Linked DNA regions of Homo sapiens. The protein of the gene in region 1 purifies or fractionates together with the protein of each later gene. This does not show direct contact. Each region holds a gene or a part of one and is shown in the gene's direction. Other genes may lie near its edges.

Region 1 (5,525 bases):
TTCCTGAGTAGCTGGGATGCGTGCTACCACACTTGGCTAATTCTTAATTTTTTTTGCAGAGACAGGGTCTCACTATGTTACCCAGGCTGGTCTTGAACTCCTGAGCCCAAGTAATCCTCCTGCCTTGGCTTCCCAAAGTGCTGGGATTACAGTCATGAGCCACTACACCCGGCCAACTGTGCATATTTTAAAGTACAATTAATATGCTTTGGCATTATATATAACATCTGTGAAACCATTGCCACAATCAAGATAATTTTTTAAAACTCAAATTTATTTAAAAGGAAACCTTTATATCATTAGGGTTTTTTTGTTGTTGTTGTTAATTATGTTTTCGAAATCAGTTGGGAACAAATACATATTTAAAAATATTTATCCATGTGCCACCCAGAATTACCTTGTCTATCTTGTATCACACTATGAGAAGCACTACCTTAAGAAATTTGTATCTCTTCTTTGGGCCATAGGTTCTTATTTTGAAAAGTAAGATAGTTGGATACTTTTCTTCCTAGGCATTTTGTTATTTATACAATGAACTCAAACCTGAAAGATATAGAAACTATGGTTTTGTTTGACAGTGAAGGTACTTACCAGGAAGGGAGGGATTTTTGTGTGTCCAGGACCCACTAAAACAGTGCCTACCACATAGTAAACATTCAAAAGTAGTTGTTGAATGAATGAAGGATAAATATCAATTAGGAATGAAATTATCTCTGAGAATTAGGCTCTCAGTCAATGAGAAAAAATAATATGACATCACTTTTTTAAAGGAATACCTGTTACATTTATTTCCTCATAGAACTGTCATAAAATCAGCTCCTGGAACTCTATAATATTCTTTAAATAATCCAGAAAGAGTTAAGGAAACATATCCAACTAGGTACAAAGCAAACTTTGTATGGTGTTTGTTTATCTTTCCGTGGTATACATTTCAGGACTGTTAATGTCTCTTAAAATAGTGTGGGAAGGGGAAAATAGGCAAAGCTCAAACAGTTAGATGGGTGCTCTTTAATATTTATTTCTTTAAAAGGATTGGTAGGAGAGGAAGATGAAAGTATGAAAAGGAAGCTATGGGTGTGTTTACTAATAACCATAACTTCTCCAAGCTCTCCCAGTGGGCCATTAACTCACTAAGAGTTGACTGTAAATTCCTTTGATATTTTTTAGGAAATAGTTCCATTTGAAACAGTACTATATTGAGGAGTTTTGGAACTCTTGATCTGGTGTGATGGTCTTTGTGTTGATGTAAAAATTTACTTCTCATCTCTTCTTTTTCTTTTCTTAGCTTCACTATAACGTGACTACAACTAGATTAGTGAATCCAGATCAACTGTTGAATGAAATAATGTCTATTCTTCCAAAGAAGCATGTTGACTTTGTACAAAAGGGGTAAGAAGCACATTTACAAGCTGTTGCATTTATTAGTATCTTTTGGACTTTGAGAAAATAGGAGTTGGTTGGGCGCGGTGGCTCACGCCTGTAATCCCAGCACTTTGGGAGGCTGAGGTGGGCAGATCACTTGAGGCCAAGAGTTCAAGTTCAGCCTGGCCAACATGGAGAAGCCCTGTCTCTACTGAAAATACAAACAATTAGCTGGGCATGGTGGCACATGCCTGTAGTTCCAGCTACGTGGGAGGCTGAGGCATGAGAATCACTTGAACCTGGGTGGAGGCTGCAATGAGCTGAGATCACACCACTGCACTCCAGCATAGGTAACAGAGCGAGACTCTGTCTCAAAAAAAAGAGAAAATAGAAGTTGATCTCCTCACCCCTGTGCTTTAGAAAAAATGTATTTCTCCCACCTCATTCCCAAAAGCTTTTGAGGTAGTGTTATTGCTTATAATTTATTCTCTTTTGTTTGGTTCAAGCTATAAAAGTTTTAGAAGCACAGATATTGTCCCACTTTATTTCAAAATAGGAAAATTCAAAATTCTTCTGGCTTTCTTGTAGATCCTCTATTTTCCTTTGATTGTCTGCTTTACAATAATATTTATAAATTATAATCTAAATTTGTGAGACATTTCAAATGAATCAGGGATTTATACAGAATCCTTCTCTTCATGACTGGCTGTTTTACAGGGCTGGGTTTTCAGTGCTTTAGGAAGTTTTTTCACCTTACCTCTCTCCCGCTGTTGAAGGAACTGCCATCAAAGCCTCCTTGGTTATGATCTCCTGGTCTCAATAGCCAGGCCTCTTCTGGTCACCCAAGATGGCCGTATTTCTAAGCATTTCCATTCAATTATTTCCCTTTAAAATTTCTTTATTAAAGCAACCAGAAGAGACATGCATGGATTTAAACATGTAAATAGAATAGTCAATATAGAGTAAGATTTGAAGAAACAATCTTGTGCAGATATAATTTTTAGTTTTTAGTTATCTGTAAATGTTGGCAAGCATTCCTTCTGTGAACCCTGGCATTCCTCTCAGGCTTCATTAGAACACATCTCTCCCACTCTGATCTCTTCTTCATGCTTGGGGCTATGAGCCTCTGGGCATACCTCTGTCACAGGTCTCTCAATGATCTATTATCTAACATGTGACTAAATTGTTCTATGCCTCATCTTCTTGTCAAGAATCTTAACTTCAGGGTGCTCCTTTTGGCATTTTTGATGTTGACTGCTTATTTTTGAGAGATCAAGCCTCTTTCCCAAAACACATGACTAAGTTAGTAAGAAAAAGAATATTTTGGTACATAACAGTATGAAACAGAAAAAAGTACATAACTGAAACAATGTAACTTCTCCACACATCTGTGGAACAGCACTTAATCAGGAACCCTTAAGTATTTAGGGAATTGAAACTTAAAATCAGTCCTATTTATTGAAGATTGGTAAGACAAACAAAACTCTAAAATAGAATGTAAACTAATTAAATATTATTACATGAATTAAATTTATACAGCTTTGCAGGATCATACGTATGTCTTAAGATGTGTTTCAGGCTTCATTTTGACTGGGCCTTTCCATTCTCAGAGTAGATAATGCGGCAGTTCTATCTATAAATGCCGTACGTTTCAGTTATGGGAATATACCATTTCCTTGGGCTTTTTCTTCTGCTTTTCTTTCTGCCATAAAGTGATGTGATGATCGTCATAAGAGGTTATCTCTCATTACTAATTAGAAAAACCTCAAAAACACACGTGCCTTTCTGACAGGTTACTGGCTTCAGCTTTATTTATATGAAAGACAAGTTTCTGACAAGGCTCACACACATGAAATATTATCTTTCTTGCGCTTTCCTTTGTTGTGAATGTTGTGGAAATGCCCAATGTTTGCGGATTACACGTTGAAAGGATTGCATAAAGAATGCCAGATTTCTTGAGCATGAATGGCATGTATAGCTATGAAACAGGGGCTTTTCTTTGGAGCAAGGGAGACTTGTAATAAAGCCTTTTCATGCTTATTCTTAGGATCCTAGTTCAGTTTCTGGGAAAACACCAGTCATACTCTATTACTAAAGCATAGCTAGGTCATTTGGAAACTGTAAACAGTAATACATTGCTTAATATGAAATAATGGTTCATTTCCTCCACTGGCCTCCTAGAGGCTTAGAAAACTCTTATACAGAATATGGTTCTCCTACTAACTAGCTTCTTATCTTGTTTTTCACAGTTATACACTGAAGTGTCAAACACAGTCAGATTTTGGGAAAGTGACAATGCAATTTGAATTAGAAGTGTGCCAGCTTCAAAAACCCGATGTGGTGGGTATCAGGAGGCAGCGGCTTAAGGGCGATGCCTGGGTTTACAAAAGATTAGTGGAAGACATCCTATCTAGCTGCAAGGTATAATTGATGGATTCTTCCATCCTGCCGGATGAGTGTGGGTGTGATACAGCCTACATAAAGACTGTTATGATCGCTTTGATTTTAAAGTTCATTGGAACTACCAACTTGTTTCTAAAGAGCTATCTTAAGACCAATATCTCTTTGTTTTTAAACAAAAGATATTATTTTGTGTATGAATCTAAATCAAGCCCATCTGTCATTATGTTACTGTCTTTTTTAATCATGTGGTTTTGTATATTAATAATTGTTGACTTTCTTAGATTCACTTCCATATGTGAATGTAAGCTCTTAACTATGTCTCTTTGTAATGTGTAATTTCTTTCTGAAATAAAACCATTTGTGAATATAGCAGGCTTCTCTTTTTTGTATTTGATTTTGATCCAAATAAAACCTCAAATGGCTTCCTGACTATTAAGTAGAGACTATTTGGAGTATGTTTTATCTGTTATCAAATATGCCTTGGGCAGAAAAACAGATAAGAATTCATTTGCATAATTTTTTCCTGTCTGATTTAAGTAGGATTTATTGAGATCGTTAACTGTCACAGCTGTGGTTACCAGAGTTAAACAACACATTTAATATGTTGAATAAAAGAGTATTGACTTTAAGTATGTTTGGTCAACAAATGATAAGTATCCGAACTATGAACCCCCCCTGAAATGTTACTTTATGGTAATTTCCCTAAGTCTCAATGTTGGCCCCAAATTTGTATTTTTATTTCATTTTATTGGTCTCCAAAGGCTAGAACTCAAGTTATATTGGTATGGATTTCACCAATTAAACTAGTTGGAGAAAAAATAGCACTCCTTCTGGTCAGTAGTGAAGGGAATGTTTTGTCATTCATTTATTCAATAAATGTTTACTAAGTGCTTACAAGCATTAGGTCCTCAGGCTGAAGCTGCTACTGTCTAGTAAACCCAAGGATTTACTAACTGTATTTGTAGCATAGCGGGACCCACCCACTTTGCATGGAATTAGAAATGAATTCTTGGAAGAAACAGCATTTGTCATTGAAGGATATATAGGAGTTCAGCAGAAAGAGAAGAGTGAGGAGTATGACTTTTTTTCTTTCTTTCTTTCTTTTTTTTTTGAGACGCAGTCTCACTCTGTCACCCAGGCTGGAGTGCAGTAGCGTGATCTCAGCTCACTGCAGCCTCGACCTCCTGGGCTCAAGCAGTCTTCCCGGTTCAGCCTCCCAAGTAGCTGGTACTACAAGCGTGCGCCACCACACCCAGCAAATTTTTTTACTTTTTGTACAGACAGGGTCTCACTATGCTGCCCAGGCTGATCTCAAAACTCTTGATCTCAAGCAGTCCTCCCACTTCAGCCCTCCAGAGTGCTGGGATTACAGGCATGAGCCACCACCCCAGCTTGGGACATGACATTTTTGAGAGAACAATATGTGCAAAGACAGGGAATTATAAAATGTCATTATGTGTTTGGGGTAGAAGCAGAAGGTAGTGGAAGCGGGAAATGACAGTAGATGAGGATTGAAAGTTTAGATGGAAATAAGTCATGAAAGTACTTGAATGCCCCATTAAAATAAGTGTTTTGGCAAAGGAGAGCTGTCAAAGGGTTTTTAATATTTTAACAACAGCTTTGTTACGATGTAATTCATATATCATAAGATTTACCCCTTTAAAGTGTGTACAATTCAGTGGGGGTTTAAGAGTGTATTCAGGTCGGGCGCCATGGCTTATCCCTGTAATCTCAGCACTTTGAGAGGCCGAGGTGGGTGG
Region 2 (4,737 bases), on another chromosome or scaffold:
GTACTTAATGAATGACATGAATAAGTGCCTATCTTAACTTCAGAAAATAATACTCTTTTTCCCACCAAGACTCAATTTGCCTAAAAAGAAAAAGAAAGCAGAACGAGAGGATGAGGACCAGGATCCCTCCATGAAGAACGAGAATAGTTCTGAGCAGCTGGATGTAGACGGAGACTCCTCCAGCGAGGTGTCCAGTGAAGTTAACTTTAATTACGAATACGCACAGATGGAGGTCACCATGAAGGCCCTGGGCAGCAATGGTGAGCAAGTCGGGCGTGCACTTGAGAATCAGTTCCAGTTGGTAGAGGCTGAGGTGGGGAGATCGCTTGAGCCCAGGAGTTCCAGGCTGCAGTGAGCTGAGACTGTGCCCGTGAATAACCACTGCTCTTTAGCCTGGGCAACATAGCAAGACGTTCTCTCTTTAAAAAAAAAAAAACGGTAGAGTGTTAAAAATGTTTATGATTGGGGACTTTCAAATGTTAACAAAAAGGAAAATCTTTATGTTGCTATTCTCTGTATTTTGTGTCTTTGGCTTTAATTTATATTTATCAAAATGTTCTGCCTTAATATGCAGTCAGATCACTTTGATCTGATGGATAGAATCTCTCTTGTTTATTTTATTTTAATTTTTTGTGAGAGAGTCTCGCTCTGTCGCCCAGGCTAGGGTGCAGTGGCACGATCTCGGCTCCCTGCAACCTCTGCCTCCTGGGTTCAAGTGATTCGATTCTCCTGCCTCAGCCTCCTGAGTAGCTGGGATGACAGGCGTGCACACCACCATGCCTGGCTCACTTTTGTATTTTCAATAGAGACAAGGTTTCGCCATGTCGGCCAGGCTGGTCTCAAACTCCTGACCTCAGGTGATCCGCCCACCTCGGCCTCCCAAAATGCTGGGATTACAGGTGTGAGCCACTGTGCCCGGTCAAATTTCTCTGCTTTAGAAACTTGCCTGTCATTGGCTTATGATTGTATTTCTGGAGGATTCGCCATGTCTTAGGTTATGTGTAGAACATATAATAGACCTGCTTTTTCTGCAGGGAAGATGGTTGAGGATATGTCTGAGAATATATAACAACATGAGTGATTGAAAGTCAGGAAAGCTAAGTTTATGCCAAATTGTCTTTAAAGTATTAGGTGGTATAGTTAAGATGACAGACAACATTACCATATAGAACAACATTTGAAGTTTATTATGTTGTAACTCTCGATCATGTATCTTTTTTAAAAATGTGTTTAGATCCGATGCAGTCCATATTAAACAGCTTAGAACAACAGCATGAAGAAGAAAAACGATCTGCACTGGAGCGCCAGAGGCTTATGTATGAGCACGAATTGGAGCAGCTCCGGAGAAGGCTGTCTCCTGAGAAGCAGAACTGCCGGAGCATGGACAGGTTTTCTTTCCACTCGCCCAGCGCTCAGCAACGCTTAAGACAGTGGGCTGAGGAGAGGTAGGCGGCACAGAGGGGCCTGTTAACTTTATAGCTCAGGCTTGCCACCTCTAACACACCTAGGGAAAGTGTCAAATGGGAACATTAAGATGGTGCTTACAAAAGAATTATGTTAAAAGATAAGTGTTAACAGCCAAGAACCACTTTGCATTTGTTTTTAAAAGGGGAATTGCCCATTTATATTGCATTATTTAAAACTGTTGGTGTTAGGTGTTGCTCCATTTTCAGTTGGTATGGCTTTTGGATTTGGATATAGAAGTACACTTGATCATTGTATTATGCTTTAGGTTCTGAAGCTTGGGTAGATGATTTTTAGAAAAACAAAGTTGGTTATCTGGACTGATTAGCTCAGGTAGGTAAAGCATGGTGCTGATGAGATGCAGATTGCAAATTTGATCTCTGTATGGGCTAATTAGCATTGCATTGAAATGCCTTATCCCATGGTTGCAGACTGTACTTCACTAACCTCATACTATTTAAAGTTTGGTCTGCAGGCAGGCAGCTTCCCTTTTACCTGGAGATTGATAGAAATGTAGGATTTCAGGCCTCCACCTCAGACCTGCTGAGACAGAATCTTGAGTTGATGAAGATCCCCTGGTGATCTGCATACAGGGGCACTGCTGTTATCTACAGCCGGCTTGCTGTGTGGCTGCTTTCCAGTGCTTATCGTGTAGTTGAGGTTCAAGCGTGTGCATGGGTCAGTGTCAGCAACACAGTCCCTGCGTGCAGACGACCACGGAAAAAGCTCAATTCACACTTTGGCAATGATGTACTACCACTGTATGATTTTCTGACTAGCTGCTTTGTGTTAATCTCTTCCCTACCTCTGCCGCTTCTTTATTTTTTTTTAGAGAAGCAACGTTGAATAACAGCCTGATGAGGCTGAGGGAACAAATTGTTAAGGCCAATCTATTGGTGAGAGAAGCTAATTACATTGCTGAGGAGCTGGATAAAAGAACAGAATACAAAGTTACCCTACAGATTCCAGCCTCCAGCCTGGATGCCAACAGGAAGGTGAGGTTGCCGTTCCTTGAAAAAAACAAAGATCTCATTGGATAAGATCGCCTGATATTTCCTGGTGTTATTTAAGCTTCAGATCCCTGTCTGTGCCTGCCCCAAGTCCAGATCCTTTGTCCTCCATGCTTTTGGGTAGAATTGACTTCCTTTTCCATTCTCTACCTTTGAGTGTATGTATATTTTATCTGCTAGGGGAATATACTCTGCATCTCACCTGGCCCTGACAGTTCATTTCACTCAACTTTCTTCCTTCAAATCTGTTTAAATTCTTTCTTAGAAGTCTTTTCTGATTAATCTTCCCCGAATGTCTTTTTTTCCTTCCTTATGCTACCACTCTACAACCCCTTCTCCACAAGTTAGGTGTTCATTTTGCTTATGTTATTTTCTACTTGGAATAGCTTGCTCTGTAAAACTGCTCATTAGTTGTGTCATGGTGTCATGTATATATTCAGGATCATACTTTTTTTGGTATAATAAATTTAATAAAATGTAGGGGGAAAGTCCCATCACAATCTTCTATCTTTGCCATTCAGTTGGGTTTTTTTCCTTCATCTTTTTTTTTTTTTTTTGAGGTTCTTTTCTAGCTCTTGATCACATTCATACATAATTTTTGATGGATTAGGTAGAATTTTCTATTCAGATGAATTTTTTGTGGATCCGTGTGTTCTGTTTAGCCTGCGGTAGTCAACACAGCAAAACTTTAATCAATCCATCTTGGATATTCTATTTTTCTTTTTTTTGTTTGAGAGGGAGTCTTACTCTGTCACCCAGGCTGGAATGCAGTGGTGTGATCCTGGGTCACTGCAGCATCTGCCTCCTGGGTTCAAGCGATTCTCCTGCCTCAGCCTCCTCAGTATCTGGGATTACAGGTGTGTGCCACCACGCTGGACTAATTTTTGTATTTTTAGTAGAGATGGGGTTTTGCTGTGTTGGCCAGGCTGGTCTCAAACTCCTGACCTCAAGTGATCCACCTGCTTTGGCCTCCCAAAGTGCTGGGATTACAGGCGGATATTATTCTAATTTGATAGCAAGGATTACATCTTTCCCTATGACATCATAGCATCAAGGTCAGCGTTTTGTACAGGGTTAGATATTTGGCAAATATGATTCTTAGTATTTTGAGAAAGGTATTGTAAATATGATATGATCGTTACTTTACAGATCATTGTTTTTGTATACTCTGTGTGTATTTTGAAAATTTTTACTTAATTAGAACACTAGTATTTGTAGGGCAAAGTCTGGGTACAGTAGGACTCACCAAAAACCGAAGAGGAAGGCCAGTCACAAGGAGAAGGTTCAGGGCCTAGTTTCTCCTTGAAGGCTGAGAAGTACAAGATCCTCTTTGATTTTATAGTGTATAAGTTGAAAAAAGCAGAAACCTGAAAGATTTTTCCCCAGTAAGCATGACCGCAGCCCTTTTCTCCGTAACCTCTTTTGGGCTTTGTTGAAAGGTGTGGCTCTGCACTGGGGCAGCCATGTCAACGCCTGGAAGAACTCATGTCGCCTGGCATCTCTCCTTAGTTAGGCTGACTCTGTAGTCTTTCGTGCAACAGACTATTTTTTGGTATTTGAAAAGTTGTTTAAAGTCCTGTCCATTCTGTGAACTCTTCTCTGGTGAATTTTTTTCTTATTTCCAGTTTTGCAAGAGGGCTAAGTTATGGTAGCTGCACCATATTGCCCGTTGCTATTATAGTCCCAGGTCCAGCATTCTCCCCCAGGAAAGCCACTACCCACACAGGTCACAAATGGGATTTTTGTATTTATTCACTGGCTGGCTGAATATAAGGTAGGAGGGCCTTTAATTTTGACTGTAAGATGGCCGGGCATGGTGGCTCATGCCTGTAATCCCAGCACTTTGGGAGGACAAGGTGGGCGGATCACCTGAGGTCAGGAGTTCGAGACCAGCCTGGCCAATATGATGAAACCCCATCTCTATTAAAAATACAAAAATCAGCCAGGCGTGGTGGCAGGCGCCTGTAATCCCAGCTGCTTGGGGGGCTGAGGCAGGAGAATCACTTGAACCCAGGCGGAGGTTGCAGTGAGCCGAGATTGGGCCACTGCACCCCAGCCTGGGCGACAGAAAGAGACTCTGTCTCAATTAAAAAAAAACACACACACGCATTTTGACCGTAAGAATTCTCAAATGTTTGTTTTATTATTTAAATTTTTTTCTTAGAAAATGATTGTAGGCAAGATGTTAATGAAACATCAATGTATTTCAAAGTTCTCTTCAGTTTTAAGTAGAACATTTGAAAAATTAAGCCAGTAAACCTAA
Region 3 (3,628 bases), on another chromosome or scaffold:
GCTAACCTATTCAGAGCTCTGGACAAAGGAAAGAAAGAAGTTGTTTTGTATTATCTGGTCCTCAACCTGTAGGGTAGACCCATCACTCCTTGCGTTAGGTGTTGATGGAACTCTGGTCCGGTTTTATTGTTGGACTGTGGATCCAACTGGTCCTGAGGCATATGAGAAAGGCTCTTCTTGGCCTTCATGTATGTAGCTCTGGGGCTGGACCTTACCTGTTAGGATCAAGGGGTAGGTGGGCTTTGTTCAGATACCTCCCAGAAACACATTAGGAGCAGAACTCAAGAACAGAATAAACTAATATGAGCATACTTTTGGAAGGTTCTGTGACAAGGTGATAAGACAAACACTAAGACAGGGAGGGTAGTAGACAGTAGTGTTTTCCCTGACCTGAACTGTAGGGATCACCTTCATTGTCTGGGGCCTTTAGAAAAGGTCTCTCAGCTGCACATCTGAATCTTCAAAGATGCCAGAAATAGACTCAAATGCCATCTTTGGGGTGGGAGATGGAGGGCAGAGCTCATGGCTGTTGTGGATACCTACAGATGGATCCCAAACTGCGCCCATCTTTTGTGGAGATTGGGAAGACCCTGGAGGAAATTCTGAGCCGCCTACAGGAAGAAGAGCAGGAGAGGGATAGGAAGCTGCAGCCCACAGCCAGGGGTAAGAGATTAGACCAGGGAGCCCAACCTAACCCTAAGGGAGGAAATTCGGATGTGGGGCCTTCTCCTCTTAGGGTTGTGATTGCCAGGATCCCAGGTCCAGAAACAAATGGGAGGGGAAGGAGATGATGCAGAAAGTACTGGCCTTTTTAAGAGCTGTGGCTTGGCATACTGCTTCCCCTCTCTGAGTCTGTTTCTTCATTGGTAAAACAGGGCCATGGTATCAGCTTTGCTTTCATGAGTGAAAACATTCTGTGGTAAAATGCTGCTTGTATTTGTTATGACTAGTGAGAGTAACCCAGACTTGATTATTCTTCAGGACTCTTGGAGAAAGCACCTGGGGTGAAGCGACTAAGCTCACTGGATGACAAGATCCCCCACAAGTCACCATGCCCAAGACGTACCATCTGGCTGTCTCGAAGCCAGTCAGATATCTTTTCCCGTAAGCCCCCACGTACAGTGAGTGTCTTGGACCCATACTACCGGCCACGAGATGGTGCTGCCCGCACCCCCAAAGTCAACCCTTTTAGTGCTCGCCAGGACCTCATGGGGGGCAAGATCAAGTTTTTTGACCTGCCCAGCAAGTCTGTCATCTCTCTGGTATTTGACCTGGATGCACCAGGGCCCGGAACTATGCCCCTGGCTGACTGGCAGGAGCCCCTGGCCCCACCTATTCGCCGGTGGCGTTCCTTGCCTGGTTCGCCTGAGTTCTTGCATCAAGAGGCTTGTCCATTTGTGGGCCGGGAAGAATCGCTATCTGATGGGCCCCCACCACGCCTAAGTAGTCTCAAGTACAGAGTTAAAGAGATCCCACCATTCCGGGCATCTGCCCTACCAGCTGCTCAAGCCCATGAGGCTATGGACTGCTCCATTCTCCAGGAAGAAAATGGTTTTGGGTCCAGGCCCCAGGGGACCAGTCCATGCCCTGCGGGTGCTTCTGAGGAGATGGAGGTAGAAGAAAGGCCAGCAGGCTCAACTCCAGCCACCTTCTCCACCTCAGGCATAGGCCTGCAAACCCAGGGAAAGCAGGATGGGTGAGGGGGTTTAGTCCCTGCCTCACCTTGGGGATGGACCTTCAGCTGAAACCATATGGCCCCCTAGGTGCACAGCCTTGATTCTTCCCTGGAGCCTACAGAGCAGGCAGGCTAGGCCAAGCCAGGCTCAACTTCTGGGCTCCCAGTGCCCATTGGCTGTGTATGACGGGAGGCAGCAGTGAGAGGCCTTCCTAGTTAGGGCCAACAGCTGATACCAAGCCTCTGAAATCCAGCAAGGAGGTCTGCCTCCCACCAGACCCTCTCCAGTGTACTTCCCCAGATAGGACCAGAGGATGTCTAGTTCTAGGCTGAGCTGGCAGGCAGCTATTACCCCGGTTCTTTCCCCACCCCAGGTCTGTCTCTTGCCTTTTCTTGGGGCATATAAGCTACTGAGTGGAACATGGAGCTGATCAAGAGGCCGTAATGGTCATGGCTGTTTCCCAGACCTGAATATTGGGGTGCTTCTTGCCAGTATTCTAAGACATTTGAGTAATTGCTGTTTGCACTTACTGCATGGTCAGACCACGTCACTACATTTCTATGCAAGGGGACAGCAAGGCAGCGTGGTGGTCATGGCTCTTAGCTAACCTATTCAAAGACCTTTTCCTGTTGATTAATCTATTTTCATATTTATAAAGGAGTCTTAATGTTCTGCCCCATAAGACTTTCAACCTTGTGGTTGGGAGTGGGGCTGGTTTTGTAGGCCCTAGGGCCTGCTTCTATGTATTTATCAACATGTGATACATTCAATTGGTTAAATGGTTTATACAGGGACTGATTTGCTTCCCTTCCTGCCATGGCTGGAGCTTTGGGAACAGTCTGTCCTTACAGAGCTGCAATAAGAAATAACCAAAGATGAAGCTGGTCAAATATTTTCATAACTTGCTTCTGTTGATTTTTTTTTTTGTAAAACTTTCCCAAGACATTTTCAGACTTAAAAATAAAGTCAGTGTTACAGGTGCTGGTCAGCCTTCTTACTTGTACCTCAAACACTGGGATAAAGGAGGCGGTCCAGGGCAATGCAGTGATGTCTGTCAAGACATTCCCCCTCCCCTAAACTCAGTAGCAGTTGAGGATGACATTTCAGGCTAGAGAGACCCAAAATACCTCTGTTCCACCTGAGAGCAAGGTGGAAGTTGCATCAGCTACTGCCCCAAGTGAGCTTCATCTTCTGATTGTGGGCTTTGGAGGAACGAGAGAACTGGCTCTTGGCCACTGTGAGGGGTACAGCTTTGCCACTCAAATATACCTTATTGTGGCATTCAGGGAGCCAGGGTCCAGAGCTGCAGGGCTGCGGTCCCTGGCTCACTTCCACATAGGCCATCACATAACCTGTCATAAAGGCATCAAAACCAGCCCGGTGCAATCCATCCCCAGGCACTGGGTTAGGACTGGCTTGGCTCCCTGGCACTTCTGAGGTAGCTCTATCAGCTATTTCAGGCCTTGCTGCCTTAATCCCCATCTCTAAGTCATTTTTGTTGCCTTGCTTGGAGTGAGGCAGGTTCCTAGTTTCATCGGCAGCCACCTCCTGCTCGGTTTCTTCAGGCTTGATGCTATCCCCACAGACCTGCTTCTTGGGAGGACCATCCTTAGCTTCCCCAGAGGTCTGTGTCCCCGGTAGGTTCAATAAAGCCCTCTTCCGTTTTTCCCTACGTCGTCGCCGTCGCCGCTTGTCCTCTGCCGCAGCCTCATCAGTGTCAATGATAAGGTCAATATCGTGAGACTGAGGACACTGTGGTCCCAGGGGGCACCAGCCATAAGCCTAGGGGTGGGAAAGAGGCTTAGAAAGAGGCTCCAGGCATCAGAACCTTCCCTCCCAAGAAACAGGTGGGTGCTCTCACCGAGAAGTTGTCACAGATGCTGGTGGGATGAGGACGGTGGGTTGCTGGGGGCAGGCAGCAGCGGTAATCAATATGGTCCCTCATGCTGGAA

The links. The genes of interacting proteins can lie anywhere in the genome.
Region 2: the proteins of MELK (region 1) and KIF13B purify together in Homo sapiens (affinity purification with mass spectrometry, with the first as the bait; one large-scale study listed by BioGRID). This does not show direct contact.
Region 3: the proteins of MELK (region 1) and TESK2 purify together in Homo sapiens (affinity purification with mass spectrometry, with the first as the bait; one large-scale study listed by BioGRID). This does not show direct contact.

Annotation. Positions count from the first base shown.
Region 1 is NC_000009.12:36,673,549-36,679,073, forward strand, and holds the end of MELK (maternal embryonic leucine zipper kinase), read left to right. Parts: intron 1-1,285; coding exon 1,286-1,389; intron 1,390-3,611; coding exon 3,612-3,789; 3' UTR 3,790-4,134; downstream 4,135-5,525. UniProt on the Homo sapiens protein: Serine/threonine-protein kinase involved in various processes such as cell cycle regulation, self-renewal of stem cells, apoptosis and splicing regulation. Has a broad substrate specificity; phosphorylates BCL2L14, CDC25B, MAP3K5/ASK1 and ZNF622.
Region 2 is NC_000008.11:29,144,100-29,148,836, reverse strand, and holds part of KIF13B (kinesin-like protein KIF13B), read left to right. Parts: intron 1-69; coding exon 70-260; intron 261-1,234; coding exon 1,235-1,445; intron 1,446-2,296; coding exon 2,297-2,459; intron 2,460-4,737. UniProt on the Homo sapiens protein: Involved in reorganization of the cortical cytoskeleton. Regulates axon formation by promoting the formation of extra axons. May be functionally important for the intracellular trafficking of MAGUKs and associated protein complexes.
Region 3 is NC_000001.11:45,342,912-45,346,539, reverse strand, and holds the end of TESK2 (dual specificity testis-specific protein kinase 2), read left to right. Parts: intron 1-545; coding exon 546-663; intron 664-981; coding exon 982-1,700; 3' UTR 1,701-2,657; downstream 2,658-3,628. Other genes in the region: TOE1 (target of EGR1 protein 1), read right to left, coding at 2,838-3,458, 3,538-3,628. UniProt on the Homo sapiens protein: Dual specificity protein kinase activity catalyzing autophosphorylation and phosphorylation of exogenous substrates on both serine/threonine and tyrosine residues. Phosphorylates cofilin at 'Ser-3'. May play an important role in spermatogenesis.